7 linked regions of the Homo sapiens genome follow. The protein of the gene in region 1 purifies or fractionates together with the protein of each later gene. This does not show direct contact. Each region holds a gene or a part of one and is shown in the gene's direction. Other genes may lie near its edges.

Region 1 (4,346 bases):
GCAGATAATCGCACCCAGATTCGAGAGCTTGGCCAGACTCTGATTGATGGGGGGATCCTGGATGATATAATCAGTGAGAAACTGGAGGCTTTCAACAGCCGATATGAAGATCTAAGTCACCTGGTAAGAGTTGGGACATACATGGGTGTTGATTAGGTATTGATGAAGTGGAGCTGGCCCTAAGCTCCATATCATAGAGCTTTAATGTTGGAAAAATCTTTAATGTTGGTTAAAGTTGGTAACCAATGCTAACAGGGGCATTGAGGGTATTGAAATATTCAGAAAGGAAGAATAGATCTAACACTCTAAGACAGAACTGGATGATTAAAAAAATTATTTTTGAGATTACTTCTACTTACAAACATTTAATTTTCATTAAGGATCATATGATAGCTGTATATAAGAACAACAACTCATACTATCCTAGTAAATATTAGGGCCATGATATTTCACATAAGCTGCTGTGAAAGCCATAGTCTCTTAGTTCATATCCAGGTTGTAACATACATATTCGTATCACAAATTAGAGAAAGAACATTTCTTTTATAGGAAGGTTGGGTATGAATATTAGGTGCTTCCAAACACATATTAAATAATAACTGTTGATGTTCAGCCCATGAATAACATCAAGCTTAACCCAAAAGTGCTGTAAATAGTAGTTTGATATGTATGTACACCTATAGAATTTGTTTTAGGCTTTGGAAAAAAAGAGACTCTGATGTTTGTGTATTGATAGACATTTTTCTTATGTTTTATATTCTTAATTGGCAGACATTGCTGATTCCTAAAAATGCTTTAAAATTATAATAAATAACACATTTTTATCTTCTGTTTAATGCATCTTATGGGAAACCTTTACATTTTTGTATTTCAACATTATATATAGAAAGAAGTAATAATTAGTAATTCAGCTGCATGGTACATAAGATCCTAGTGGGACATTTTCACTGTTATCATTAGTAATTATTATTTATTTATAAAGAAAGCTAAAGTCTTGGATGAAAGCTTTTATGGTCTTTTCTTAGTGGCCAGAATATATATATTCTGCTATTTATATTTGTGTTGGGCAACTAATGATTCAATTTCTCCTTTGTGCAGGCAGAGAGCAAGCAGATTTCTTTGGAAAAGCAACTCCAGGTGCTGCGGGAAACTGACCAGATGCTTCAAGTCTTGCAAGAGAGCTTGGGGGAGCTGGACAAACAGCTCACCACATACCTGACTGACAGGATAGATGCTTTCCAAGTTCCACAGGAAGCTCAGGTATTGCCGTGCATTTGAGGGCTTTTGAGCTGTAAAGAGAGCTTTTGTAATTGCCTCCTCAACTATAAGAGAACCCCTCCTGCTCTCCAAAACCGAGAGTCAATGGGAAAGATTGACCTTACTTACAGGGCAGCATTTGGGTTTTGGAGTTCTCTTGCTTTCTATGTGAGACTCTGGCAAAAGTCTTATATAGTTTATTTTATTTTATTTTATTTTATTTTATTTATTTATTTGAGACAGAATCCCACTATGTCACCCAGGCTGGAGTGCAGTGGCACGATCTTGGCTCACTGCAACCTCCGCCTCCTGGGTTCAAGTGACTCTCCTGCCTCAGCCTCCCGAATAACTGGGACTACAAGCACGCGCCACCACGCCCGGCTAATTTTTTGTAGTTTTAGTAGAGACGGGGTTTCGCCATGTTGGCCAGGCTGGTCTTGAACTCCTGACTTCAAGTGATCTGCCTGCCTCGGCCTCCCAATAATTTTTGTATTTTTAGTAGAGACGGGGTTTTGCCATATTGTCCAGGCTAGTCTCAAACTCCTGACTTCAGGTGATCCACCTTCCTCGGCCTCCCAAAATGCTGGGATTACAGGCGTGAGCCACTGTGCCTGGCTGAAAAGTCCTGTATATTTTAAATTGTAGTTTTCTTAGCTGTGAAGTTGGGACAATTCCTTCCTTATAAATAAGTTGTGAACATTAGAAACGACAAATGCAAAGCCCTTAGCAGGTGCGTCATGTACAATAGTCATACCATGCAGTGGGCCATATTATTATTATTATACAAAAACGTATTATTATTATTTTTTAGACGGATTCTCACTCTGTTGCCCAGGCTAGAGTGCAGTGGCGCGATCTCGGCTCACTGCAAACTCTGCCCCACAGGTTCAAGCAATTCTCCTGCCTCAGCCTCCCGAGTAGCTGGGATTATAGGCGCCCGCCACCGTGCCCAGCTAATTTTTGTATTTTTAGTAGAGATGGGGTTTCACCATCTTGGCCAGGCTGGTCTTGAACTCCTGATGTCGTGATCCACCCGCCTCGGCCTCCCAAAGTGTTGGGATTACAGGCATAAGCCACCGCACCTGGCCTACAAAAACTTATTAAAGCTTCTGTGGAGGTCAACATTATGTAAAATACGATATCATGTATTACACAACGATATAGAACTTTTGTATTGTCTCTTTTTATACTTAAGTAAAAAAAAAAGGACATCCTCTCCCCTTTCCAATCTCTTTTTAGAAAATCCAAGCAGAGATCTCAGCCCATGAGCTAACCCTAGAGGAGTTGAGAAGAAATATGCGTTCTCAGCCCCTGACCTCCCCAGAGAGTAGGACTGCCAGAGGAGGAAGTCAGATGGATGTGCTACAGGTAAAGAAGGCCAGGAGCTTCCTTTTACTTTTCAACTTGTTGGGAATTTTCTTCAAAAAAGAGAAAGAATTGATTACTTGGGCACCGTTTGTATTCTTTGTGATGTAAACCATGGGATGGGAGTGATGATGTGTTGAAGGTTGCATCCTAGGGCAGCAGAAACAAATTGTTGCATGTGTGGAAAAATATGAAATCTGATTTTGATAGCTGAGATGAGAAACAAGAGAGTGAGCCAGATTTAGAAGTTAGCTTTATATACACTTTTTCTTTAATGCAGAGCCTCTGTCAGTATCGTGTGGCTGATGCTGTGGGCAGGCCGAGCATGAATTGGATGCAGCATCATTTAGTTCTTTCATGGTTGATATGACATTGACTTTCACTCTGAACTTGTGATGAAGGGCATTTTGAGTTCTAGGTTCCTGAACTATCTTTTTGAACATGAAGTTTTAATTCCAGTGAGGTCAGCTTTATCTAAATTTCTTATCCAAATCTATTACTTCTGAGATTGAGACACTGAGTGTTGTAATTTTTGACACTGGGCTATGCAGTTCACTTAGGTGATCGGGTACCCTCACTGAGATTCATTAGGAGTTTTTTATTTTGGGTCATATTTCTGAATTTTTTTCTTTTGGTACTTTATGGTACAAATTTTTAGTAGTATCTGTTATGCTCATGATGAGAGAGATAATCATCCTGATGGGAATTGCATATTTTCATTTCTGCAAACAGAGGAAACTCCGAGAGGTGTCCACAAAGTTCCAGCTTTTCCAGAAGCCAGCTAACTTCGAGCAGCGCATGCTGGACTGCAAGCGTGTGCTGGATGGCGTGAAAGCAGAACTTCACGTTCTGGATGTGAAGGACGTAGACCCTGACGTCATACAGACGCACCTGGACAAGTGTATGGTGAGGCTTTTGGGTGATTGGCACATCCAGTGGCTTTTTCAGCAGCTGTTATGGCTTGGTCTAGCAAGTACATGCCTAGTGTGTCCAGTGATCACTAGTCTACAGTGTGCTAAACATAAGGATTGATGATGGAAAACGTGTTAAAAAATAAGAAGTGTGGTCTTTCCCTCCAAAGAAATTAGAAGAGATAAGAGAGATAGCTAAGGAAACTAGAATAGACATGTATATAACATGATGACAAAAACCAAAACAAAAGAAATACAGCTTAATCACCATGTGAAGTTAGGAGGGCTTCAGCAGAGTGTGACTAATAAGCAAAGTTTTCAAGGATAAATTTGAATTAGCTAGAAGAACCATACTTAGAATGGATATCGTAAAAATTCCATTTTCTAGGAAAATAAAAATTTCAATAGAAATTTAAACCTTAAGATAGGAAAGAAGAAATGATATATAAGGCCTTATTACTTTTTTAGTCTTGAACTTTATAATTCAATTGAATAGAAATTTAAAAATAATGTGGCTAAGGGGACACAATCTTAGAATTAGTGTTCTGCTTGAGAATCACAGAACTTAAGATGAGACTCTTTAGGACAGGAGAGGTATAGGGACAGTTCTTTGTGCTTTTCAAAACAAAGGATAAATTTTAATATATATGTGCATGTATGTAAGTATTTATTTGATTATTGTGACATAATGGTAATCAGAGAAAGTGCTGTCCTTGACTTCATGGAACATACATAGTTCAGGGGTCTGTTACATGACAGCGTCCTATGAGATGTTGAGATGATGATGTATAGGTGTCAAGAGAAGCTGTTTAG
Region 2 (3,557 bases), on another chromosome or scaffold:
GCATAAAGTAGAATGGGCTTTGTTGGTAGTCAATAGATGCAATAATAAGCTTTAGGTTTACCTAAGTAGGTGAAAATATCCTGTAAGCAGATGCAAATCCAGAGTTCTAGAAAGATTTTTGGCCTCTTCATTATTGAATTGGATAAAATATATTGATTAAATGAGATAACACATGAGAGAGTATCTGTTAAAATGCTTAAGACTATTAGAGGGTATTAAGTACATCTTAGTTTCCTTCTTTCCTTCAGTATTCATGATGATTTAGGGCATTAAAGGAGAGACAGATATGCTAACATCCACTCTTGTGCCATGTGTCTTAACAGGACTCCACATAGGCCCATCTGTAATTCTACTCCCTCTAGTTAGAGGCTTTAGATTGGCAAGTGGGTTGCAAAATTCCTTTTATGTTTTCCCTGATCCCCATGTTAGCCTGTTTGCCTCTCTAGAACCAAGAGCATTCTTGTGTGTAAATTTGAAATTTCTGTCACTTTATCACTCATATAGTCTCCTTTGGCATTCCCATGTACATCTGAGATTTGAAATTTCTATCACTTTAGGCCAGGCGCGGTGGCTCACGCCTGTAATCCCAGCACTTTGGGAGGCCAAGGTGGGTGGATCACGAGGTCAGGAGATCGAGACCATCTTGGCTAACACGGTGGAACCCTGTCTCCACTAAAAATACACAAAATTCGCTGGGTGTGGTGGCGGGCACCTGTAGTCCCAGCTACTTGGGAGGCTGAGGCAGGAGAGTGGCGTGAACCCGGGAGGCGGAGCTTGCAGTGAGCTGAGATCACGCCACTGCACTCCAGTCTGGGTGACAGAGCAAGACTCCATCTCAAAAAAAAAAAAAAAAGAAAGAAATTTCTATCACTTTATCACTCATATAGTTTTATTTGGCATTCTGTGGGAAAGGGATTTCAGCTTAAGAGGATGATTGTCAACATAATCAGAAGTATTATAGAAAATGTGTCTTCTGGATTTTTCTGTAAAGCAGACTATAAATGAGCTATTTCCCTTAAGATAGTTGAAATTCTGAATTTATTTTTTTTTTCAGTTTGGCCCAAGTCCATTCTGTCATACCGCCCTGTAGGGGTGTTTTACTACAAAAGATCCACTACTTACCTTCTTCCTATGTGAGCTTAGTCATTAAATCAATGTTCAATGAATTGTCTCCAAACTGTGATGAACATAAAATTGCATACTTCATTCAACAAATATTTATTGAACTTGTGCTATATGTCAGATCTGGGAGAACAGAGCTCTGTGGAGAAAAGTGAACAAAGCAAAGCTCCTGCCCCCATAGAGCTTATGTTCTAATGGCAGAATATAGACAATAAGAATTTAAGCATTCAGTGCACATATGTAAGTACTTGGAGATAAAATCACGTACGACTAGAATACAGAGGTGATAGAGGGGTGGTCAGAAAAGACCTCTCTAAGGAGCCAGTGTTTGAATAGAGACAGTAATGAAGTGAGAGTTGGATGGATAAATGTGGGTAGAGGATTTTAGATAGCCAAAACAAGTGCAAAGCCCCGAGGTGCAGGGGTAGGGCTGGGTGTATCAGAAGAGTAAGGAGGCAATTATTGATGGGAGTGAAGTGAGCCAGAAGGAAAGGGGTAAAATATGATGTCTCTGTAGGCCATGGGAAGGACTTTTTTTTTTTTTTTTTTGAGACTTAGTCTCGCTCTGTTGTCAGGCTGGAGTGCAGTGGCACGATCTCGGCTCACTACAGCCTCCGCCTCCCGGGTTCAAGTGATTCTTCTGCCTCAGCCTCCCGAGTAGCTGGGACTACAGGTGTGCGCTACCACGCCCAGCTAATTTTTGTATTTTTAGTAGAGACAGGGTTTCACCATGTTGGCCAGGATGGTCTCGATCTCTTGACCTTGTGATTCGCCCGCCTCAGCCTCCCAAAGTGCTGGGATTACAGGCCTGAGCCACTATGCCCAGCTGATCCTATTATGTTTTAAGTAAGGTTTTTGGCTTGGCCAACAGAGTGAGTGGTAGTGCCATTTTCTGAGACAGGGAACACTGAGGGAGAACACTAGATTTAGAGGGTGGAAATCGAGCATTTTGTTTTGCACATGTTAAGTACAAAGGTCAGATAGGATATACACTTGGCCCTCCCTATCTGCAGGTTTTGCATCTGCAGATTCAACCAACTATGGATTGAAAATATTCAAAACAGTAAAAACAGTCTGGGCACAATGGCTCACTCCTGTAACCCTAGCACTTTGGGAGACCAAGCTGGGAGGATCACTTGAGTCCAGGAGTTTGAGACCAGCTGGGGCAACATAGTGAGACCTTGTCTCTACAAAAAAACAAAACAAAAAAAAAAAAAACTAGCGGGGCATGGTGGCACACACCTGTAATCCTAGCTACTCAGGCAGCTGAGGCAGGAGGATCGCTTGAGCCTGGGAGGTCAAGGCTGTAGTGAGCTGTGATCACACCACTTCACTTCACTCTGGACAACAGAGTGAGACCCTGTCTCAAAAAAAAAAAAAAAAGGAAGAAAACCAATAAAATATAACAACAGTAAAAAAAAACAAAATACATTTTAAAAGGTTAGAGTTCCAAGGGAGGGAAAACAATACAGTATAACTGCGATTTACTTAGCATTTACATTAACTTAGATATTATAATTTAGAGATGAGATGATTTAAAGTTTATGGGATGATGTGTGTAGGTTATATGCAAATACTACACTGTTTTATTTAAGGGACTTAAGCATCTACAGATTTTGGTATCCTTGGGGAGGTCTGGGAACCAATCTCCCATGGATACTGAGGGATGACTGTACAAGACTGATGTCAGGATAGTTCAGGAGTGGAGAGAGAGACCTGGGAGTTACCAGCTTTCAGGTAGTTTTAAAACCATCATACTGTATGAGACAGACATGGATTTTGTCCCCAAGGGGTTTGCAGGCTAGAAGGAAAGAGAAAATTTGCAGAATAGAAAGTGGTAACATGAAGTGATAAGGAACACTTGGGGAAGTGAATCATTTCATTTGGTTGGAGTCTAGATGTAAAGCTTACTGGTTTCCCTTTTAAAGGGAAGGTTGCAAAGTACGATTTGACCTTGAGATCATTTTATCCAGTGATAGCAAGGTGTTAAGCCTTTTGAATAGAGGGTAAAAATTAACCCTGGAATTATTGCCTCCTCCTTCTTAGTATTCTTTAATTTATTATGAAGACCTATTATTTTCATTCACAAACCACTCTCAGATTTTCCCTGTTCTCTCCATTATTACTGACGCCACCTAAAACTAAGCCTTCCTCCCTTTACTCCCCTGGCATCTCACTCTAAAATAGTCTGCAAACCATTTTAACATAATATGCTAAATACTTCTGTCTTACCTGTACAACCTTCTTTTTCACTCTACTTCTCCATCATCCTGTTCATCTCATTAAATTATAGAATTCATGGTACATGGTGAATAGTGAAAATTAATCTGAAAAAAAGTGGCAACAAAAACCAACCACCTGGATTGGTTCTCTCAAATGTCTGGTTATGGAATATGTATGGGTGACAAATTTTGTCTTGCCTAGATGGAATTGGG
Region 3 (4,841 bases), on another chromosome or scaffold:
GGCGCGGTGGCTCACACCTGTAACCCCAGCACTTTGGGAGATTGAGGCGGCAGATCATTTGAGGTAAGGAGTTCGAGACAAGCCTGACCAACATGGTGAAACCTTGTCTCTACTAAAAATACACACAAATTAGCCGGGTATGGTATCACACGCCTGTAGTCCCAGCTACTTGGGAGGCTGAGGCACGAGAATCAGCCTGGGTGACAAGAGTGAGACTCCCTCTCAACAACAACAACAACAAAAAAAAAAAAAAAAAAAGGAAAAAGAATAAAAGAAACACATGTCAAAGGAAATCCAGCATAGAGTAATTTATTGCAAAAGGAAAATAGTATTTTGAAAGTTAAGTGCAGAGTAGACAGTACACCCTGGGAGAGAGAGAGATAGAGAGAGAGTTAGTTCAGGGAGGGCTGCTCCTAAGGATGAAACAGCAAAGGCTGGCTCTAGAGAGACCCCCTTTGTAAGGGGTCTTACACGATTATTCATAAGGGGGTGGGAGAAGTGTTACTAGTAAGTATGTTCTGGGTGGTCCTCTAGGTGCACATGCGCAGTGGGTGTACAGGCTTGTTCATACATTGCATGTTTCATTAGCATCTTAAATTTCCACCCAGGGGCGTGTTTTTTACCAAGATAATGAGCAAAGGGTCAGTTTGAGGACAGGTGAAATCAAAATGCGCATGCTCCCTACAGGGGAAAGTCCCTACTGGAGAGCGCTCAGCTTGAATGAGCTCAATTACAATGCGAATGCTGGGGCTTACTGTGTTGACTGCGGTCACCACGGTTGCCGCGTCTCCAGGACACGGTCACTTCCTTGACTATCCCCGCCTCGCTTCCACCTGTAGCTTCCTTTTTTTTTTTTTTGAGACAGTCTCACTCTGTGGCCAGCCTGGAGTACAGTGGTGCGATGTCGGCTCACTGCAACCTCCGCCTCCTGGGTTCAAGCGATTCTCCTGTCTCAGCCTCCAGAGTAGCTGGGATTACAGGCGTCTGCCACCACGCCCGGGTAATTTTTTTGTATTTTTAGTCGAGACGGGGTTTCGCCATGTTGGCCAGGCTGGTCTCGAACTCCTGACCTCAGGTGATCCGCCCGCCTCGGCCTCCTAAAGTGCTGGGATTACAGGCGTGAGCCTCCGCGCCCGGCCGGTAAGCTTCCTCTTCTCTGCTCTCATCACCTGTACACGGGTTTTTTCCTCATGTCAACTCTGTGATGGACTGGAATGTTTTCTTCAGATGTGGGTAATTTAAAGGGGGCATTTTTACAAGAAACAAAAAAAACTCGGTTTGTTCGGAGGCAAGTTTTAAATCAGGGTTCATTTTTTAATATTGATGAATCCTTCAATAATTGTATGTTTACTGCTGCCCTTCGCGAGCCAGCCTGAGAAGCGCGGGCTCGACATCCCCGCGCGCCCCCGCCGCCCGCCCCCAAGGCCGGCGACGCTGGAGCACATGTCCTGAGGCCCAGGACCGTGGTCGGCCGCTTTCGCACATTCGTGGCCAGCAGAGGGCGCAGCCGGCCAGCCCCCGCAGCGAAAGATCCCCGAGTGCCGCGTCAGCGATCGCGCTCCTTGCCCTCGCCGCCTGCCAGCCGCCCTGAGTCAGCAAACCACAGAGAGGCGAGGACCTCCCATTTTCCTAGACAGAACAAGTGGGCGTTGGGGGTACGGGTGAGTGGCAAGAACAACCGACCCGGAAGCGAAACGAGGGGGAACTTCCGTTCTTTGTTCTGTCCCCGGTGTGTGGGTCTGTGACAGGGTCCAACAGGGCCTGGTCCGTGTCCGGTCCCCCAAATCTGTCGTCCCTGCCCCCAGGGTGAGTCCACGCGTCCCCGGGTCTCGCGGTGAGACGGAGGCTGTGGTCGCCGGGGAAGGGGGTGGTGTCTGTGCCACTGCGGCCCGCAGGGTCCCCCGGCCGGCCCGGAGCAGGGTTCGGGGAGGCGCCCCTCCGTCCCCTGCAGCCCGTCCTCTACTCCGCTTCCCCAGGGATCCCCCTAGCCTAGCGGGATCCTGCGTAGGGGTTAGTAATGGGGCTCCGGTTCTGGTTTTGTGACTTTAACGGCGACCCAGCTGGAGCGTTTAAAAGTTTCAGCAGAGCGGTAGGGGCGCCTCTCTCTTGAAAGCAGCTAATGACAGCGACCCTAACTTGGTATTTCTCCCAGACGTTTTTATTTGATGTTAACACAGTTATTCGCGCCCGTGGCAGGAGAGGAAGTTTATTTTTACGCAGCTGGGTCCAAGGATCAGAGAAATTCTGCTAAGCGTACGCAGTTAGCACGAGGGCTGGGAGTGGGTGCAGACGCCGATTCCAGGGGTAATCCTGCTGGAGCCCAGTGCATCGCGTGATACACCTGGCTCAGGCTCCGTTTTCAGTTGTATTAGATTCCTGGTTTGATCCTCTCTCCGGAAGTGGGATTGAATCCACATCGGTGTTTACACTCTGAAGGGCTTTTGTAAACTCCAGGAGAAGATAGCAGAGTGATGAACCTGAAACCGATGGGCTAATTAGAGGAACGAGCGTATTATTTTCTCCAGAAAAGACATCTGTGGAGAGTGGGCATCATTTGATTATACGTGTTTGATGGACAGTCGGGTGGAAGGAGAAGATTCTGTTATTGAAGCTCTTTTTTTAAAAAAATTAATTTTTATTTATTTTTGAGACTGTCTCTGGAGTGCAGTGGCGCGATCTCGGCTCACTGCAACCTCCGCCTCCCGGTTCAAGCGCTTCTCCTGCTTCAGCCTCCCGAGTGGTTGGGACTACAGGCGCCCGCCACCACCTCCGGCGAATTTTTTGTATTTTTAGTAGAGACGGGGTTCCGCCCTTTTGGCCAGGCTGGTCTGCAACTCCTGGCCTCAAGTGATCCACCTGCCTTGGCCTCCCAAAGTGTTGGGATTACAGGCGTTAGCCACCGCGCCCGGCCTTTTTTTTTTTTTTCCTTTTAAAATGTTTGTGTGTGTATTAAGGTCTTGCTCTGTTGCCCCCGGCTGGAGTGCCGTGGTGCCATCATGGCTCACCATAGCCTGGAACTCCTGGGCTCAAGTAATCCTCCCACCTCAGCCTCCTAAAGTGCTGGGGTTACAGGCGTGAGCCACTGCAGGTCGCCAGTCATTGAATTTCTGTGATGCACTAGGTCTCTGTGCGGTGAAGGTCCAAGGAGATAGATTTTCAGCGAATCACCTGAAGACTTCTAATGGCTCAGCTGTGCAATGTGGATCCCCTGCTGAAGTAGTTCGGAGCACAGTGTCTAGCAAGTTAGCTGACAGAACGTTAGAACTTTCTTACCCTGGGTGGAGGTGGACCTGAGAACCTACCATTCCCTTTCATCTCTCCACGGGTGCAACGCAAATACTAGTTGTGGTGGTGGTCTTAATTGGTATTTATTAGCATATAATAAGTATTCTCTTTTTTTTCCTTTTCTTTAAATGTCTTGATTAGAAATGAAGTTTAGGCTGGACTCGGTGGCTCATGCCTGTAATCCCAGCACTTTGGGAGGCTGAGGTGGGAGAATCACTTGAGGCCAGGAGATTGAGACCAGCCTGAGCAACACAGTGAGGCTGCATTTCTACAAAAAGAATTTTAAAAAACTCAGCCAGATGTGGCAGTGCACACCTTTAGTCCCAGCTCCTTGGGAGGCTGAGCTGGGAGGATCACTTGAACTTAGGAGTTTGAGTCTGGAGTGAGCTCAAACTCACTGCACTCCAGCCTGAGCAGCAGAGTCAGACCCTGTCTCATGGAAAAAAAAAGACGTTTGCATGAATATTTTAAATTCCTTTTTTTCCCCTTAATCACACAGCATTGGCATCAACAAAAGTCAGAATTCCCGGGAACTTGAACAGAGGCTGCTAAATTCCCAGTAATTGCTCCTTTGGCCTTCTAGGGACTGACTTCAAAGAAGGAAGGAAAGAATCAGGCAGGTAAAGCTTTCCGTGTCTTGTTCTTACTGCCAGGCCATCTATCTCGGTCCCCACGGGCAGCACCAGGGAGTGAGGCTGGCAACAGAGCAGGGGAAGGGCCCTGTCTGGACCTGAAGCCATGGGGGCACAATGGAGAGTTTTCTTTCTGTGAGAAACGCTGTTTACTGATCTGGACACTGGGTGCTTGTTCTCAACAATATGCCTTTGAGTTCCAGCTTCACTTAACCCAGCTGTGAGAGGGAGCTGTTGCCTTTTTCTCTGGAGTCAGACCTTTGACCTGCCTTTCTAGGAGTTTGTACTGAAAGCTGACTTGTTGAGGGCGTCAGCTCATAAATAGCTCCGGAGATTGTAAAGGTGGTTGATAAGAGGATATGATGGTTGGCTCTGAGACACCATTGAAGGGACCCTGCTAGGAGGGCGATGGTGGCAAGAAGGTGTGTCACCTTGATTGCCAGTGGCCTGGCTTGTGCCTGAGTCAGTGCTTTCCACTGTGTAAGGGCTCTGGTATTGGACATTCTATATCCCCTGCTACCCGAAGACCAGAGTTGCCCAAACTTGCGACTGACTTTCAAACAGGACCCCTCTTCCTTTGTTCTTTTTTTTTCTTTTATTCTCTCAAACATTCTCTTATCCATTCCTCTTCCTTTGATGCCTTATGTGAGTGTAACAGTCTGTAATTATGAAGCACATACTTTTTGCATTCCCGATTTTTTTACTCCTTGCAGTTGTGAGTGGCAATAGAGTTAGCCCTCAGCAAACATTTGCTATGTGAGCAAATGAGTAAAGAGATAATGAGAGGTAGATCAAATCCAGGGTTGGTTGGTTTGTTTTGTTTTGTTTTGTTTTGTTTGAGACAGAGTCTCACTGTTGCCCAGGCTGGAGTACAATGGTGCGATCTTGGGTCACTGCCACCTCTGCCTCCCGGGTTCAAGCGAT
Region 4 (3,991 bases), on another chromosome or scaffold:
GGACCACACAGGGCACATGCATACAGTGACAGAAAGCAAACGGGGCCGCCCCAGAGACCCCGAGACAAGCCGCAGGGCGCCCACCGCTCTCCTTCCCTGGTGCTCCCACCGCTTTCTGTCGAGTCTGTGGGCCTGCCTGTCTCCACGAACTCAGGTAAGGCACCGAGTCTTGCCCAACGTCTGCACTCCGCAAACGCCTGTGAAGGCGTCCCTGAAGGTGAGGGAAATGGCTCTGCTGTCAGAAGCCAGCGTTCAAAGCCCCACTCGGCCCCGTCTCGGCTGTGTGACCTTGGGCGCGTCACAGCCTCTCAGAGCATAGGTTCCGACAGGTGCCCGACTATAAACCGGCAGCGTCGCCCTCCCCACCTCCGGGGCCTTCTGGGGTGCGGAGCGAGCGAGCAGGTCCAGCGCTGCCTGCGCGCCCGATTACAGGAGAGGCGCGGGCCTTCCAGTGCCCTAGCCGGGACCCGGCCCCCGTCGCGCCGCTCACCCAGTTTCCGAAGCCGAACTGCTCGATGGCGTCCAGCAGCAGCTGCTCCTCGCGACTGGTCCAGCCGCCCTCGGCCTCGGGCCCCCAGAGCGTGAAGCGCCCGCCGTCCACCAGCTGGTAGCCGTGGTAGCGGCGGTGGTGGCCGATCTCGGCGCCGGCCGAGAAGCACTCGGGGCACAGCTCGATGTCCTGGCACTCGGTGCAGCGGAAGCGCAGCGGGCTCACCTCGGCCAGGCAGTACACGCAGTACTTCTTCCCCAGCTCCGCCATCTTCCCCCGCTCGCCGCCCGCCGCCCGGCCCGCCGCAGCCGCCGCGCCCCCGGCCGTCAGCGCCCCGCCGCCCGCGGGACCCGCCGCCGCCGCCGCGCACGAGCAACCGCCGCCCGCCGCCGCGGCTGCCGCCACCGCGGCCCCAGCCCAGCCGCCGCCAGAGCCAGCCAGCCGGGCCGCGTCCCCCCTCAGTACGCAGGCGCCGTCCGGCCCGGCCCGGCCGCCACCGCCGCCGCAGCTGTCGCCCCGCCGCATCGCGCAGGCGCCCCGCGGGCGCCACCTTGCGGACGCCCGGCCCGCCGCTCTGCGCCTGCGCGCCCCCCGCGCCGGCCACCGCCGCCTTTCCCAGAGCCTCCTGAACGCCCCGCCCCAGGCCCGGCGGTGGGAAATGGGCAGGCAGAAAGCCCGGCGGGGGCGCCACGCCCCTCGCGGCGAGAGCCCACGGCCGCTTCCAATCAATCTCGCCTATCGTCAGCTCGCGGCCTCCCATTGGCTTGCTCTCGCCGGGCAGCGGGGAGAAGGCGCTGGACGACGGCCTGTCGCCTGGCCAATCGCCGGGCCCAGCGCGCGCGCCTTCTGTTGCCCCGGGAAACCTAACAGCGTCCTGCCGGGGTCCGCTGCGCTGGCCGAGCCGGGAGGAGATGGACGTCAGCTCTGAGCACACTAAGGACCCCGGCGGGGAAGGCGGAGACGGGGAAAGCCTGGCCGCGCGGCCGTCCAAGATCAAGGCCAGCTCTGGCCCTCCGACCTCTCCCGAACCCGGGGAGCTGGAGTCGGAGCCGGAGGAGGAGGAGGAGGAGCAAGCGGCTTCGCAGGGAGGCACCGCCGCGGACGAGCAGGCCGAGGCCCCGAAAGGGCTAACGGCAGCCGAGGCTGCGGGCGAGGAGGGGCCTGGAGAGCCGGGGAGGCCGGCCGAGCCCCAGCCCGAGCCCGAAGAGCCGGCCGAGGTTGGGGCTGAGGAGCCCGCCCAGCCGGAGCCCGGAGCCGGGCCCGAGGAACTAGAGGCGGAGGCGGGGGCGGAGGAACTGGAGCAGGCGGCAGAGGGGAAGGAAGTCAGGTTCCAGGCCTCTCTGCCGCTGACCAGGATCGATGAGGAAGAGGCTGCTGCAGCCCCGGAGGCCGAGACAGAGCGGGTGGAGGGGGAGGAAGAGGACAAGGAGGAGACGCAGAGAGACGGCGCGGAGAGCAAGGAGAGGGATGGGGAAGGACGCCCGGCCAAAAGCCAGGAAGAGGGGAAGCGCCTCTATGGAAGGGACGAGTTTGAGGACCTCGAGTGGTCCGAGGAGGTCCAGAAGCTGCAGGAGCAGCAGCTGCGCAGCGACCTCCTGGACCAGTACCGTTCCCTGCTGGTGGAGCGGAACCGCTCCCAGCGCTACAACCTATACCTGCAGCACAAGATCTTCGAGGCGCTGCGCAGAAAGAAGGGCCTGGAGGCCGCTGAGGTGGCTGACCGGGGCGCAGAGGCCGAGGCCCCCGAGAAAGAGCAAGCGTACCTGCGCCATCTGGGCATGCTGGAGGAGCTGAAGAAGCAGCAGGCAGACGACCTGCAGTGGTACCACCAGGAGCTGGGCCAGTTGAAGCGGCAGTGCCAGGAGAAGCTCACCAGGGTGGAGAAGGAGTGGCGACGCTTCCAGGCACTCAAGAAGCAGGTGGTGATGCAGGCCATGGGCAGCTGTCGGATGAGGGGCGGGCGCCAGGCTGCTCTGCGAGAGGTGGAGCAGATCCAGGCGTTGGAGGATAAAAAGGAGAAGGAGATGAGCGCCGTGCGGCTGGAGAACATTCAGCTGAAGCAGAGCCTGGTGCATTTTGAAACCAGGATGAGGACCCAGGAGGACCTGACCCAGGGTCTGCTTCTTATTGACTTTGAACAGCTGAAGATTGAGAACCAAACCTTCAATGAGAAAATTGAGGAACGAAATGAGGAACTTTTAAAACTTCGCAGCAAGGTGACCAACAGTGTGCAAGTAATAACCCACGTGAAGGAAAAGCTGCACTTCATGGACATGGAGAACGCGTGCAAAAAGACACAGCTGGCAGAAATCGAGGCCCAGGCCGCCCTAGGAAGAGACATCCTGACCAAGACGAAGCAAGCCCGAGAGGGGCTGCGGACGGACAACATCAGACTGAATCAGAAGTGCGGCCTTCTAGGCAAGGACTCACTTCTTCGGGACTTGGAAGAAAAGGTGGACAAGACCGAACTGCTTCACCGGCGCCTGGAATCCCTGAAGCGCCACCACGCTAGCCTCACTTTGTCCTGCAGAGGCGTGAGGCAGAAGATCAGGGAGGCCAAAGCCTTTCTCCCTTCTTGACCAGATCGATGAGAAGAGTCTGCAAAACACTTCATCCTCAGGACGTGCTGTCCTGCTTTATTTTACCTTCGTTGCTATTAAAAAGGCCTGTGTCATTTGGGACGGGACTCTATTTTGTATTTATCTCAAAACGTTTTAGCTTCCAAATCAGTGCTGAGCCCAAACCTGGGTTAGGAGTTTTATCTGGGATTGAGCAAAAATAGGTCCAGAAAAGCAAACAAAGGGTGATTTAATGTAACTGACTTCTCATGAAAAACTGTCAAAAGTCTCAAGTCTGAGCAATTCTATAATTTCAGTGATGTAATACTAAAGAGTACTGTTCCTCTTTCATATGTAGGAGGGTTTAAAAGTTCAGCGAATGGGCAAGGTACAAAAAAACCCTGTGCATTAAGCTAATTATTAAATTCTTTGGATTTATTAAATTATGTAGTCCCGAGACACTGTTTCAGTTAGAAGCTCACTAATCCCCTTAGATTAATCTTAAATTTAAGTGATTTTGGGCCGGGCTAGGTGGCTCACCTCTATAATCCCAGCATTTTGGGAGGCCGAGGTGGGCAGATCGTGAGGTCAGGAGATCGAGACCATCCTGGCTAACACGGTGAAACCCCATCTCTACTAAAAATACAAAAAATTAGCCAGACCTGGTGGCGGGCGCCTGTAGTCCCAGCTACTCGGGAGGCTGGGGCAGGAGAATGGTGTGAACCCTGGAGGCAGAGCTTGCAGTGAGCTGAGATCGCACCACTGCACTCCAGCCTGGGCGACAGAGCGAGACTCTTGTCTCAAAAAAAAATTTTTTTTATATGTGACTAGCACGAGCTTAGGGGGCAATAAAAATATCCAGGAAACAGGAGAGATGATAAACAGGAGAGGAGCTGATGTTTCTTCATCGTCCCTTTTTCAATGAAAGGGAGTTCAGTCTACT
Region 5 (4,346 bases), on another chromosome or scaffold:
TTTTTTTTTTTTTTTTTTTTTGAGACAGAGTCTCACTCTGTTGCCCAGGCTGGAGTGGAGTGGCACAATTTTGGCTCACTGCAACCTCCACCTCCCAGGTTCAAGCGATTCTCCTGCCTCAGCCTCCTGAATAGCTGGGACTACAGGTGTGTACCACCATGCCTGGCTAAGTTTTGTATTTTTAGTAGAGACGGGGTTTCACCACATTTGGCCAGGCTGGTCTTCAGCTCCTGGCCTTAAGTGATCCACCTGCCTTGGCCTCCCAGAGCGCTGGAATTACAGGCATGAGCCACCGTGCCTGGCCAGCATTTTTTCTTAGTGTTCCTGCAGGTGCTGCCATGATTACATATTACTTCAAGGCTCTTATCTTCTTTATACATGCAGTAGATTTTTGCTGGATAAAGCTTAGTTGAGTGGAAACCTTACCATTTGCCCTTCTAGAACCTCTGCTTTAATCTGTAGTTTTCCTTTTTTTTTTTTTTTTTAAATGGAGATGGGGGTCTCGCTATGTTGCCCAAGCTGGTCTCAAACTCCCAAGTTCAAACTATTCTCTCACCACAGCGTTCTAAAGTGCTAGGATTACAGACGTGAGCCACCATGCCCAGCGCTAGAACTGGGCGCTGTACCGAACTGAATAGAACTGCTAGTCTGTAGTTCTATTCACTCTCTTCACCTCTGCATTGGATTTACTTTGTAGAGTAGCACTGTCCAGTAGAACTTTCTGAGATGATTACAGTTTTGTGTATCTGTGCTGTCCAGTCAAGAAGCTACTGGCCACTTGTGGCTATCAAGTACTTGAACTGAGGAAATGATTTTTACCTTTTTTATTTCTATTTATTTTTTATTATTTTTATTTATTTATTTATTTATTTATTTTTCAGATGGAATCTGGCTCTGTCGCCCAGGCTGGAATGCAGTGGCATGATCTTGGCTCACTGCAACCTCCACCTCCCAGGTCCCAGCAGTTCTCCTGCCTCAGCCTCCTGAGTAGCTGGGATTACAGGCATGCACAACCACACCCGGCTAATTTTTGTATTTTTAATAGAGACAGGGTTTCACCATATTGGCTAGGCTGGTCTTGAACTTGGGAGCTCAAGCAATCCACTCACCTTGGCCTCCAAAAGTGATGGGATTACAGGTGTGAGCCACCGCGCCTGGCCTTATTTATTTGTTTATTTTTTGAGATGGAATTTTGCTCTTGTTACCCAGGCTGGAGTGCAATGGCATGATCTCCGCTCACTGCAACCTCAGCCTCCGAAGTAGCTGGGACTATAGGCACACACCACCACACCTGGCCAATATTGTATTTTTAGTAGAGACGGGATTTCACCATGTTGGCCAGGCTGGTCTAGAACTCCTGACCTCAGGTGATCCACCCACCTTGGCCTCCCAAAGTGCTGGATTACACGTGTGAGTCTGTAATTGGCCTGGCTGATTTTTACCCTTTTAAAATTTTCCTGGCCGGACATGGTGGCTCATGCCTGTAATTCCAGCACCTTGGGAGGCCGAGGCGTGTGGATCACTAGGTCAGGAGTTCGAGACTAGCCTGACCAACGTGGTGAAACCCCATCTCTACTAAAAATAAAAAAATTACCTGGGCATGGTGGTGTGTGCCTGTAATTCCAGCTACTCAGGAGGCTGAGGTAGGAGAATCGCTTGAACCTGGGAGGCAGAGGTTGCAGTGAGCCAAGATCGTGTGACTGCACTCCAGCCTAGTGACAGAGTGAGAGTCCATCTCAAAAAAAAAAAAAAAAATTTGTACTTAAGTGTAATATATAGCCAGTTGTGGCCAGTAACTCTCATAATAGACAGGACAGCCCTGGAGAATATATGGAACCTCAGTTTTGCCTTAATTGGTTTAAATGTTGTACTGTGTCATTCTCATCCATACTCTTGCTGTTAGTGTGGTTAAGCCACTCTCCCTTTTAAACTTCACCTAGAAGCCAGTCCTTTATGAGACATAAGACTCCCAGTGGGTAGGCTTACCAGGCTCTACAGTTGCTCTGCCTTCAAGGCAGCCTGTGTGTCAGAGTCCTGAGGCTAGCGTGTGTGTTTACTTGCCCATAACTATAAATGTTAACATTGCAGATATTTCCTTTAATTCTACTATTCCAGGATTCAGGAACTAAATCTATTTTTTTTTTTTTTTTTGAGATGGAGTTTCACTCTTGTCACCCAGGCTGGAGTGCAATAGCGCGATCTCGGCTCACTGCAACCTCCGCCTCCTGGGTTCTAGCAATTCTCCTGCCTCAGCCTCCCGAGTAGCTGGGACTACAGGCATGCATCACCATGCCCAGCTAATTTTTTTATTTTTAGTAGAGACGGGGTTTCACCACATTTGGCCAGGCTGGTCCCGAACTCCTGAACTCAGGTGATCCATCCACCTCAGCCTCCCAAAGTGCTCGGATTACAGGCATGAGTCACTGCGCTCGGCCTCATTTTATTTCTCTTCTCTGGACATTTTCCATCTTAATACTTTCATCTTGAGATTTGACACTTAGGACTGCACAGGGCATTTTAGGTGTGGACAGCTTTGATTTTGTACTAAAAATGATTACACTTGGCTTGATTTCCATTTCTCTTCCTTCTGTTGCTTGCCTTTCTACATGGTTTAGACTGAAGCAACAGTGTACTAATATCACTAGTAAACCATCTACAGTGCCTGCTATTCTAGGGTGTAACTGAGAGCTCAGAACTCATTCTCACATCAGGATTTGTGCTCCTAGCATTTGTAGGTGACGTGTTGATCTAGGTCTGCCTTTTTTGTGTTCATGTTAGTCACTAACAAGGGGGGTTTCTAGTGCTTATGGACCACATGGCAATTAAATGCCCATATATTGCCCTGAAACCATCTGGTTTAACTTGTCCCTCAATCCTAGAAGAAACCTGACAATGGGATTTTCACATTTCTCTAAGGAATATGTTAGTAAGTTATTCCTTAAGCACATAGATTCCATCCAGATTATTAGTGCCTTTTTCCCCCCAGCTCAATTTTAGAGATAAAAAGAGCTTTAGACATGGTATTGTACACTCACCAAACCTCTGTTTTATCCCTAAATAGACCAAGAGAGATTACCAAGTCTCCCAAGGTTACATAGTAAATGAGAAACACCTGGGGCAGAGCTCAGGCCTGCTGGTCCAAGCCCTGTGTTTTTTCTCCACTGAAGCACCTCATTGGAGTAGCTTTTTCATAATCCTCATCTTTCTTGGAATTTCTGAAGGCAGGCAAGCCTGTATAGCCGGGCTAACTTTCACCTCATCCTCCTGCCTCGTCTCACCTCTCCCTTCCCTTTTCCTTGCCTGTGGATGCTGACCTCTGCATGGGTGCCTGCTTCTCTAAAGCTACGATGTAATCTGTAGCTGTCCTTCCTCGTTTGAGACCCACATGTGAACACCCCATATGTGTGCACTTTTTCTGCGAATGGTGATCATCTGATTTTCAAGGGGTTAGCTTGTTTTTTAAAAAATGAAAAAAAAAATCACTGTTTACTAATCAATGAGTGGTATTGGGGCAATTTGGTAGTTCTCAGAAAAAAAATTAATTTGGATCAATTTCTCACATCTTATACAAGGATGAATTCTAATTGGAGTTAAGATACAAATATAGGGCTGGGCGCAGTGGCTCATGCCTGTAATCCCAGCACTTTGGGAGTCCGAGGCAGGTGGATCACGAGGTCAGGAGATCGAGACCATCCTGGCTAACATGGTGAAACCCTGTCTCTACTAAAAAATAGAAAAAATTAGCCAGGCGTGGTGGTGGGCACCTATAGTCCCAGCTACTCAGGAGGCTGAGGCAGGAGAATGGATGAACCCGGGAGGCGGAGCTTGCAGTGAGCCGAGATCGAGCCACTGCACTCCAGCCTGGGCGACAGAGCGAGACTCCGTCTCAAAAAAAAAAAAAAAAAAGATGTAAATAAAACTCCAGAAATATTGAAAGAAACCTTGGGATTATTTGCTTTGTAACTTGGACTGGTGAAGGTGTTTCTGTCACCCCAAACACCAAACCCATGAAATAAAAGACTTACAAATTTGATTACATAAAAATGAAATTTCTGGCCGGTCGCATAATCCCAGCACTTTGGGAGGCCGAGGTGGGCGGATCACGAGGTCAGGAGATCGAGAACATCCTGGCTAACACGGTGAAACCCTGTGTCTACTAAAAATACAAAAACAAAATCAGCTGAGCTTGGTGTCAAGTGCCTGTAGTCCTAGCTGCTCAGGAGGCTGAGGCAGGAGAATGGCGTGAACCTGGGAGGTGGAGCTTGCAGTGAGCCAAGATCATGCCACTGCACTCCAGCCTGGGCCAACAGAGCGAGGCTCCATCTCAAAAAAAAAAAAAAAAAAAA
Region 6 (4,346 bases), on another chromosome or scaffold:
TTACTGAGAATTCTTTTGTGATATGAATTCCCATTCTCGAATACATTGGTTTTATATGCTTACATTTATGTGTTAGTTATTAAAACATACTAATATTGTATATCTAGTCAAAACTGAGGTAGAGAGAATAAATGGTTGATTTTGAGTTTGAGTTTCATAGTCCAAAAAGCTGATATATTGCCTGTGTTCAAGAGGGTCTATATCAGCCCTCTAGATGCCAGCATCTCCAAATTTTACTTTTTTGGAATCTGTACAGTATTTGCAATATTTTTATTACAAATTTCTACTCTGTGGAATTTAATTTTTAAAATACCTGCAATACATATATATGTTGAATAGATGAAAAATTATGTAGATAATAATGAATGATACGGTTCTAAAAAGACAGGTTAAAAAGTAAGTTCACTTTTATTTTGAGCTTCAGAATCATTCAGAAGCCAGTCGCCACAAACGCAGACCAAGGCTCTTGGCACATCAAATATGCCTATGGCTTAGGGTTATTGACAAGTCTTATGTTGCAGTGTATGTGGTTTATAGTCCTGCCTTCCACAGTTGCTTGGGAGAGCTGTGAGTCACTGAGGCTTATGAATGTTTACATTTTGTTTGTTGCAGATATATAGAAGGAAGCGGAAGCCTGCTGTTGACAGGATTTGCGTGGGCATTCCTCCTGGTGAGGTAAAGACACTTTGTCTATATTGCGTTTGTCCCTATTAGTTCAGACTATCTCTACCCAATCAAGCAACGATGCTCGTTAAGAGGTAAAAGTGGATTTTAAAGGCTTCTGTATTTATGCCAGGATGGAGCAATTAGTCATCGAGAAGAGAGGGACCCTGTATGTCAAGAGAATGATTTCAGAGAATCCAATACAATTTAAGAAAAAGCATGGGGCTGGGCGCAGTGATTCACTCCTGTAATCCCAGCACTTTGGGAGGCCGAGGTGGGCGGATCACGAGGTCAGGAGATTGAGACCATCCTGGCCAACATGGTGAAACCCCATCTCTACTATAAATACAAAAATTAGCTGGGCATAGTAGTGCATTCCTGTAGTCCCAGCTACTCGGGAGGCTGAGGCAGGAGAATTGCTTGAACCTAGGAGGGGGAGGTTGCCCAGATTGCGCTGCTGCACTCCAGCCTGGTGACAGAGTGAGACTCATGTCAACAACAAAAACAGAAAAAGCACGCACATCTAAAACATGCTTTTGTGATCCATTTGGGATGGTGATGACATTCAAATAGTTTTTTAAAAATAGATTTTCTCCTTTCTGGTTTCCGTTTGTGTTCTTTTATGCCCTTTTGCCAGAGTAGGTGGTGCAATTTGGCTAGCTGGCTTTCATTACTGTTTTTCACACATTAACTTTGGCCTCAACTTGACAACTCAAATAATATTTATAAATACAGCCACACTTAAAATGGTCCCATTATGAAATACATATTTAAATATCTATACGATGTGTTAAAACCAAGAAAATATTTGATTCTTCTCTGATATTTAAGAATTGAAGGTTTGAGGTAGTTACGTGTTAGGGGCATTTATATTCATGTTTTTAGAGTTTGCTTATACAACTTAATCTTTCCTTTTCAGTGCTTTGGGCTCCTGGGAGTTAATGGGGCTGGAAAATCATCAACTTTCAAGATGTTAACAGGAGATACCACTGTTACCAGAGGAGATGCTTTCCTTAACAAAAATAGGTGAGAAAAGAAGTGGCTTGTATTTTGCTGCAAAGACTTTGTTTTTAATTTATTTAAAGAAATAGGTTGTTATTTTTGATTACAGTGGTATTTTTAGAGTTCATAAAAATGTTGAAATATAGTAAAGGGTAAAGAAGCACATAAAATCATCCATGATTTCAATATCTAGAGATAATCACAATTTACATTTCCTTTCAGTCTCATTCTCTTCTTTTAACAGCTTTATTCAGGTATAATTTACATACAATATAATTTGCTTGTTTTTTAAGAGTATAATTTAGTGATTTTTGGTAAATTGAGAGTTTTGCAACCATCACCACAATCCAGTTTTAGAACTTTTCCATCACCCCACATCTGTCTTATATACACATATAAATGTGCCATACAATTGAGATCATACTGTATGTAGAATTTAAAATTAGTTTTTATTGTTAATGAGTGTATTATGAATATTTCCCAGTGGGTTACATTTCCTAAGATGTGGAATTTTACATTGCTACATAAAATCCCCCTATGTACATGTACCTATAATTTATTTAATAAATTCCTTATAAATGTTGGACACATTAGTTTCCATTTTTCACTATGTAAATATGTCCCTGTATACATCTTTTATTATTTCCTCAGGAACAATTCCTACAAAGTAAATTGCCCTCTCTAAAGAGCATACAAATTGACTGAGCCACCGTTAGGCCATTTTCTGAGACTGCACAGGTCACAAAGCAATCTGATCTTTGGGAATACAGCTACATTTTATAGGCTTCTTAGATAATGTTACTCTAAGTACTTTAAATATGTGGGGCTTCTCTGGGCTTTTTTTTTTTTGAGACGGAGTTTCACTCTTACTGCCCAGGCTGGAGAGCAATGGCGCGACCTTGGCTCACTGCAACCTCCGCCTCCCAGGTTCAAGCGATTCTCCTGCCTCAGCCTCCTGAGTAGCTGAGATTACAGGTGCCCGCCACAATGCCTGCCTAATTTTTTTGTATTTTCAGTAGAGATGGGGTTTCACCATGTTGGCCAGACTGGTCTCGAGCTCCTGACCTCAGGTGATCCACCTGCCTCAGCCTCCCAAAGTTCTGGGATTACAGGCATGAGCCACTGCGCCCGGCTTCTCTGGACTTATTATGTGGAGAGATAGTACAAGGCAGTGGCTTTCAGAGTTTTTTGACCATGACCGTTGTGGGAAATACATTTTATATCTCAACCTAGTATGTACACACAGACATGTAGACACATGTATAACCTAAAGTTTCATAAAGCAGTACCTACTGTTACTAATTGTAGTGCACTCTGCTATTTCTTATTCTACCTTATACTGCGTCATTAAAAAAGTGCTGGTCATGACCCACTAAATTTATTTCCCAAACCACTAATGAACAATGACTCACAATTTGAACACACTGGACAGGGGGATAGCCAATAAAATTGAAAAGAGCAAGGAAATTAATGTATTCATGATCTCCTCTCCTGTCTCTTACATTTTTGCAGTAGCAATGTAAAGGAATCCTAAGAGAACAGACATTCTGGGAATAGCAGGCCTAGCGCTGCACAACTGCTTTCCTAGGCTTGCTCCTAGTACCAAGCTCCTGACGCATATAGCAGTGGCAGTAATAACCAGCCCATAGTAAGGTTTGTCACAGGGACTGGTTGTAAGAACTGATTTGGTTGGTATAGCTGTGAGGGCCTGGCACGGTGTCCACGTGTGCCTCAATCCTAATTCTGAAAAAGGCTGACCCTGGGGGTGCTAATTAGATACACAGAGAGGAATGAATGCTGCCAGAAGGCCAAGTTCATGGCAATGCCGCTGTGGCTGAGGTGCAGTCATCAGTCTGGAACGTGAACACTGAACTTCTCTCACATGTGATTCTTCACTTGACTGGCTTCATAGAACCCCAAAGCCACCCCACCACCACATAAATTGTGTCTCTAGGTTCTGTGTTGCTCACACTCAAAATTTCTGGGCCTTCTCATTTGGTGCATGTGAATGGTGCATATGAGTGAAGTCTAGGATGGGGCCTTAGCGTTAAAGCCCTGGGGTAGTGTGACTGAGATTGTTGGTAAAGAATGTGCAGTGGTTGGCATGACCTCAGAAATTCTGAAATGGGACTGCACCTGCAGACTGAAGTGTTCAGAGAGCCAGGGAGGTGCAAGGACTGGGGAGGGTAGAGGCAGGAACCCTGCCTGCCAGGAAGAGCTAGCATCCTGGGGGCAGAAAGGCTGTGCTTTCAAGTAGCAGCAGATGTATTGGTATCTTTGTAATGGAGAAGCATACTTTACAGGAACATTAGGCCAGATTGTCTAACCAGAGTATCTCTACCTGCTTAAAATCTAAGTAGTTTTCTTGTCCTTTGCAGTATCTTATCAAACATCCATGAAGTACATCAGAACATGGGCTACTGCCCTCAGTTTGATGCCATCACAGAGCTGTTGACTGGGAGAGAACACGTGGAGTTCTTTGCCCTTTTGAGAGGAGTCCCAGAGAAAGAAGTTGGCAAGGTACTGTGGGCACCTGAAAGCCAGCCTGTCTCCTTTGGCATCCTGACAATATATACCTTATGGCTTTTCCACACGCATTGACTTCAGGCTGTTTTTCCTCATGAATGCAGCAGCACAAAATGCTGGTTCTTTGTATCTGCTTTCAGGGTGGAAACCTGTAA
Region 7 (4,346 bases), on another chromosome or scaffold:
CAAGCTGGGGAGGCCTCCAGAGCCCTGCCAGCAGCCCCCTCCCTGCACTGGCCCCTGCCTGCCCTCCCCTGGGGGTCGTTCAGAAGTGCCCTGCCCATCAGTGCCCTGCTTGTGGCTGCGACGCGCAATGATTCCTGCAATGCGCAACGACTCCCGCGATGCGCAGTAATTCCGCTGGAGATGCACAGGCCCTTCGCCCGGATGAGCTCCTTGGTCTTCAAAGACTCCCAGAAGCCAGGGCCACCCCTGAGACCCAGAGAGGAAGTTCCCTGGGGCAGCTGAGCTAGCGAGATCGTCCCCTGGTTGTCTGGCTGGCTTCTGAGCCCACGCGATGCCTGGGAAGCCGGCCAGGCTGGAGGGAGAAGCCATGCCTTTGTGTGTTCCCGTGTGTTACTCCCCTGTCCTGGAACCTCACATGGCTCCCCACTGCCTGACCAACCCTTCGGTTCAAGGCTGTGAAGGACCCCTCAGACCCTGCCTGGCTCTCCTGCCTTGGTGTTTTTTTAATCTCCTTCACTTAAATGCCCTGCGTTCAAAGCAAACTGAATTCTTAGCATATCCTGAACATACCTCAGGCTCTTACTCTGTTCCTGCCCCCACGGATCACCACCTCCCAAACAACCTCCCCCAACCTCTTGGTTCCTAACTGGCCCATCTAAATGCCTTCCCAGGCCAGGTGCATGGCTTGCACCTGTAGCACTACTCCTTGGAAGGCTAAGGCAGGAGGATCCCTTAAGGCCAGGAGTTTGAGGCTGCAGTGGGTTATGATCATGCTACTGCCCTCCAGCCTGGGCAAGAGAGTGAAACCCCATCTCTGAATGAATGAATGAATGAATGCCTTCACAAGGCAGCTTCCACCTAGAAGCCATCTCAGACAGACCCCACTCACCCGGGTATGCCATCACCCCAGCATTTCTGGCAGTTCCACTCTAGGCCTCCATCCCGTCCCCTGGGAAATGGGGGTGATAATAGGACCTACCCTATAGGGTTGTTGAGCAAGTCCCAGTGGGAGGACGGCAGGGGAGAACGGGCAACATGGCTGGCCTCTGTCTGTGGGTCCAGAGGGCCAGATGCCTTGCGCTGGGTGAGGCCATCCTAGAGGCAGGAGAGGAGAGGAGGCCCCAGCGAAAGGCCCCAGCCCACTTGTGTTGCTGTGGGCAGCAGGGGAGGGAGAGAGGCCTACAGGGGGCCTCAGCAGTCTCGAAGTCGCCCAGCTAGGCCATCACTGGCTGGGCTGGGGTCAGGGAACCATAGCTGATGGGGAATGCATGGAGGACAGATGACCAATGTGAACTGATGGGACTCAGTTTCTCCCCTGGGCCTCAGTTTCCCTAGCTGTACAATGAAGTGGCTGTGATGCTGACACCTTGGTGTTCTGAGGAAGCTGTGCTCTCTGTGGCTGCCGCAGGGGCAGGAGAAGGCCGGTCATGCTGCTCTCTGGGCCAGAACCTCTCCCCGGGACTCAAGACCACCCCCGGTGTCTGGTCCTTGCTTCATCTCTGCCCACCACCCCATGGGCCCTGCGGATTTGCGTAGATCCGCTTCCTGACTCCTCATCTCCAGATGGGTTATTTTCCGCATTTTCCAGAAGATGGAAACTGAGGTGTGGGGAAGACAAGAGATTTGTCCAAGGTCACCTGGAACTGCCCTTCCCTTCCCCCTCCTAGCCCTGGAGGATTGCTCCTGGGGCACCCTGTGCCATCCTGCCTGGCAGGAGGCTGGGGGAGTCTGAGGAGCCCCTCATGTCCCGGCCTTACAGATCGCTGCCCAGGAGCTGTCCGACAACCGCGTCATCACACTAAGCCTGGCGGGCAGGAGGCTGGACAAGAAGGTAAGGCGGGCAGAGGAAGGGCTCCCATTGGGAACAGTAGCCCCCACCAGCCCCAGGGCTGTGTGGCCTCATTCCGGGACCTCGGGCCACCACCTCCATCACATTCTAGGGACTGGTCCAGCACGGGGCCCTCCTGGCCACTCCAGATTAGGACTCCTTCACCTCTGAGGTAGTGAGTGTTCCATCCCTTAGGGGTATTCAAAACACACCTGGAAACCTGCTCATTGGGGCATCCCCATCTCACTTAGTGTAAGTACATTCCAAGGTCCTTACCCAATGGGGCCCTGCCTGATGTGTCCCCAGTGCCCCGACTCTCCGACCTCACCCCTCCTCCCCGCACCTCACTCTGCTTCAGCCAAACCTAGCCCCTTGTCCGTGAATTAAACGAGGCACTCTCCTCCCTCAGGAGCTTTGCACTTGCTGTTCCCTCTGCCTGGGATGCTCTCTTCCTTGAATTTTCTCACGGCACCCTCTCACCTCCATCAAGCCTTTGCTCCCACATCACCTCCTCAACGAGGCCTTCCCTGAAATTGGTCTTCAATTTCCCACCCCCTCCTTCTCGTCTCCTTAACACTATTACTGTCTAGCATACTTTCTTTCTTTTTTTTTTTTTTTTGAGACAGAGTCCTGCTCTGTTGCCCAGGCTGGAGTACAGTGGTGTCATCTCAGCTCACTGCAAGCTCCGCCTCCTGAGTTCATGCCATTCTCCTGCCTCAGCCTCCCGAGTAGCTGGGACTACAGGCGCCTGCCACCACGCCCAGCTAATTTTTTTTTTTTTTGTACTTTTAGTAGAGACGGGGTTTCACTATGATAGCCAGGATGGTCTCGATCTCCTGACCTTGTGATCCGCCTACCTCGGCCTCCCAAAGTGCTGGGATTACAGGCTTGAGCCACCATGCCTGGCCCATACCTTCTTTACTTATTTTCTGTCTCCCTAACTTGAATATAACCTCTTTAAAGTAACAGTTGCCAGGTGCAGCGGCTCACACCTGTAATCCCAGCTACTTGGGAAGCTGAAGCAGGAGGATCACTTGAGGCCAGGATTTTGAGACCAGCCTGGGCAATATAGTGAGACCCCATAGATGGATGGATGGATGGATGGATGGATGGATGGATGGATGGATAGATAGATAGATAGATAGAGTGAGTCACATACAAAAAGTGGCACTTTTTAAACCTTAAATGATTTTTTAAAGGCCATGATATTCCTTATGTCATGTGCAGGATAGTTTCAGTTTTTCACATTCCCAATAAAATAAACTGAAATGACACCCTGCTGGGAGCCTCACCCTACCTTGGGAATAGTCACCCTCTTGAAGTCCTGGCCCATCTAAAATGCCGGAGTTCTGACTCACACAGGCTCTGAGTCTTGGAGGGTCTCTGAGCACAAGCTCTGACAGCCTCAGGGTGGGGGGTTTCTGCTGGGGGACCTGGTTGATCCCAGGGGGCTGCAGCTGCCCTGGGCCTCTTGCTGAGCCTTGCAGAGTCTGAGGGGAGGGGGCCAGGCTGGCTCTGCCCACAGCTCCTATCCTGACACCCGGCTGGGGAGGCAGCAGGGCCACACCCCCATCTGCCTGAACCTAGCAGGGCTGTACCTCTCTCACCCGCATCCTCCCACTTCTCCCAGGACCTCTTTGGGAAGTCAGACCCCTTTCTGGAGTTTTATAAGCCAGGAGACGATGGCAAGTGGATGCTGGTCCACAGGACTGAGGTGGGTACGTGGGGGCCCAGGGATCTCTAAGCAGTGGGCCTGCAGTCCAGCCCCTCCACAGCTCTGAAAAAGGGAGGTGCGGTCACAGCCGCTCAGTGTGCAGGAAAACCCACAGTGGCACCTGAGGGATATGCTTCCTCCCAGCCACAGGGACGCTCACTTCTGTCTCTGGAAGTGTGGCTGTGGGTCTGCATTTTGTCACCCTGTCCCCATTGGGCTGACCCAACCCCAGAGCACTGCTGCCCAGGGCCTGAGCTCACAGCATCCCTCTCTGTCCCACAGGTGATCAAGTACACACTGGACCCTGTGTGGAAGCCATTCACAGTGCCCTTGGTGTCCCTGTGTGATGGGGACATGGAGAAGCCCATCCAGGTGAGGGGGCTCTGGGGACCCTGCTCCCCACCTTGCCAGCTCCAGCCTCCCAGTCTACCTGAGGCTCCCGGGGATGCCTTGTAGAAAGCTCTTTCTCATACAAGTGGAACGAACCCCCATCTTTGGAGGAGGGAGGACTGGAGACTGGGTCCTCATCCTGGATCTATCTGATGCCCTGAAGTACCCGGGCAGGGCCCCCACCTTTGAGCCCCTCTCTAAAACTCTCTTGCCCTCCCCAGAGGGCTGCAGAGCTGCTAGCTAGGGAAACACCTTGGAAATTATCAAATTTGGCATGATGAGGACAGTGATTACCAGTCTCTCTAAAAGCTCTCAGTCCTCTGGCTGAGTGCAGTGTCTCATGCCTGTAATCCCAGCACTTTGGGAGGCTGAGGCAGGTGGGTCACTGGAGGTCAGGAGTTCAAGACCAGCCTG

Evidence for each region.
Region 2: the proteins of UTRN (region 1) and CTNNAL1 purify together in Homo sapiens (co-immunoprecipitation; 2 studies listed by BioGRID and IntAct, with this or other methods). This does not show direct contact.
Region 3: the proteins of UTRN (region 1) and ZNF3 purify together in Homo sapiens (co-immunoprecipitation; one large-scale study listed by IntAct). This does not show direct contact.
Region 4: the proteins of UTRN (region 1) and CFAP184 purify together in Homo sapiens (co-immunoprecipitation; one large-scale study listed by IntAct). This does not show direct contact.
Region 5: the proteins of UTRN (region 1) and MARK3 purify together in Homo sapiens (affinity purification with mass spectrometry; 2 studies listed by BioGRID and IntAct, with this or other methods). This does not show direct contact.
Region 6: the proteins of UTRN (region 1) and ABCA1 purify together in Homo sapiens (co-immunoprecipitation; 2 studies listed by IntAct, with this or other methods). This does not show direct contact.
Region 7: the proteins of UTRN (region 1) and CPNE2 purify together in Homo sapiens (co-immunoprecipitation; one large-scale study listed by IntAct). This does not show direct contact.

What each region holds. Positions count from the first base shown.
Region 1 is NC_000006.12:144,487,575-144,491,920, forward strand, and holds part of UTRN (utrophin), read left to right. Parts: coding exon 1-123; intron 124-1,098; coding exon 1,099-1,260; intron 1,261-2,496; coding exon 2,497-2,625; intron 2,626-3,354; coding exon 3,355-3,528; intron 3,529-4,346.
Region 2 is NC_000009.12:108,944,412-108,947,968, reverse strand, and holds part of CTNNAL1 (alpha-catulin), read left to right. Parts: intron 1-3,557. UniProt on the Homo sapiens protein: May modulate the Rho pathway signaling by providing a scaffold for the Lbc Rho guanine nucleotide exchange factor (ARHGEF1).
Region 3 is NC_000007.14:100,078,600-100,083,440, reverse strand, and holds the start of ZNF3 (zinc finger protein 3), read left to right. Parts: upstream 1-1,717; 5' UTR 1,718-1,806; intron 1,807-3,784; 5' UTR 3,785-3,905; intron 3,906-4,841. UniProt on the Homo sapiens protein: Involved in cell differentiation and/or proliferation.
Region 4 is NC_000004.12:7,040,349-7,044,339, reverse strand, and holds CFAP184 (cilia- and flagella-associated protein 184), read left to right. Parts: upstream 1-1,338; 5' UTR 1,339-1,401; coding exon 1,402-3,069; 3' UTR 3,070-3,491; downstream 3,492-3,991. Other genes in the region: TADA2B (transcriptional adapter 2-beta), read right to left, coding at 491-760. UniProt on the Homo sapiens protein: In complex with CFAP263, acts as a regulator of ciliary beating that connects radial spoke 3 (RS3) to the inner dynein arm (IDA) and the nexin-dynein regulatory complex (N-DRC).
Region 5 is NC_000014.9:103,468,322-103,472,667, forward strand, and holds part of MARK3 (MAP/microtubule affinity-regulating kinase 3), read left to right. Parts: intron 1-4,346. UniProt on the Homo sapiens protein: Serine/threonine-protein kinase. Involved in the specific phosphorylation of microtubule-associated proteins for MAP2 and MAP4. Phosphorylates the microtubule-associated protein MAPT/TAU. Phosphorylates CDC25C on 'Ser-216'.
Region 6 is NC_000009.12:104,788,265-104,792,610, reverse strand, and holds part of ABCA1 (phospholipid-transporting ATPase ABCA1), read left to right. Parts: intron 1-612; coding exon 613-675; intron 676-1,582; coding exon 1,583-1,689; intron 1,690-1,711; exon of another isoform or gene 1,712-4,043; coding exon 4,044-4,185; exon of another isoform or gene 4,186-4,346. UniProt on the Homo sapiens protein: Catalyzes the translocation of specific phospholipids from the cytoplasmic to the extracellular/lumenal leaflet of membrane coupled to the hydrolysis of ATP.
Region 7 is NC_000016.10:57,115,737-57,120,082, forward strand, and holds part of CPNE2 (copine-2), read left to right. Parts: intron 1-1,759; coding exon 1,760-1,831; intron 1,832-3,458; coding exon 3,459-3,542; intron 3,543-3,824; coding exon 3,825-3,914; intron 3,915-4,346.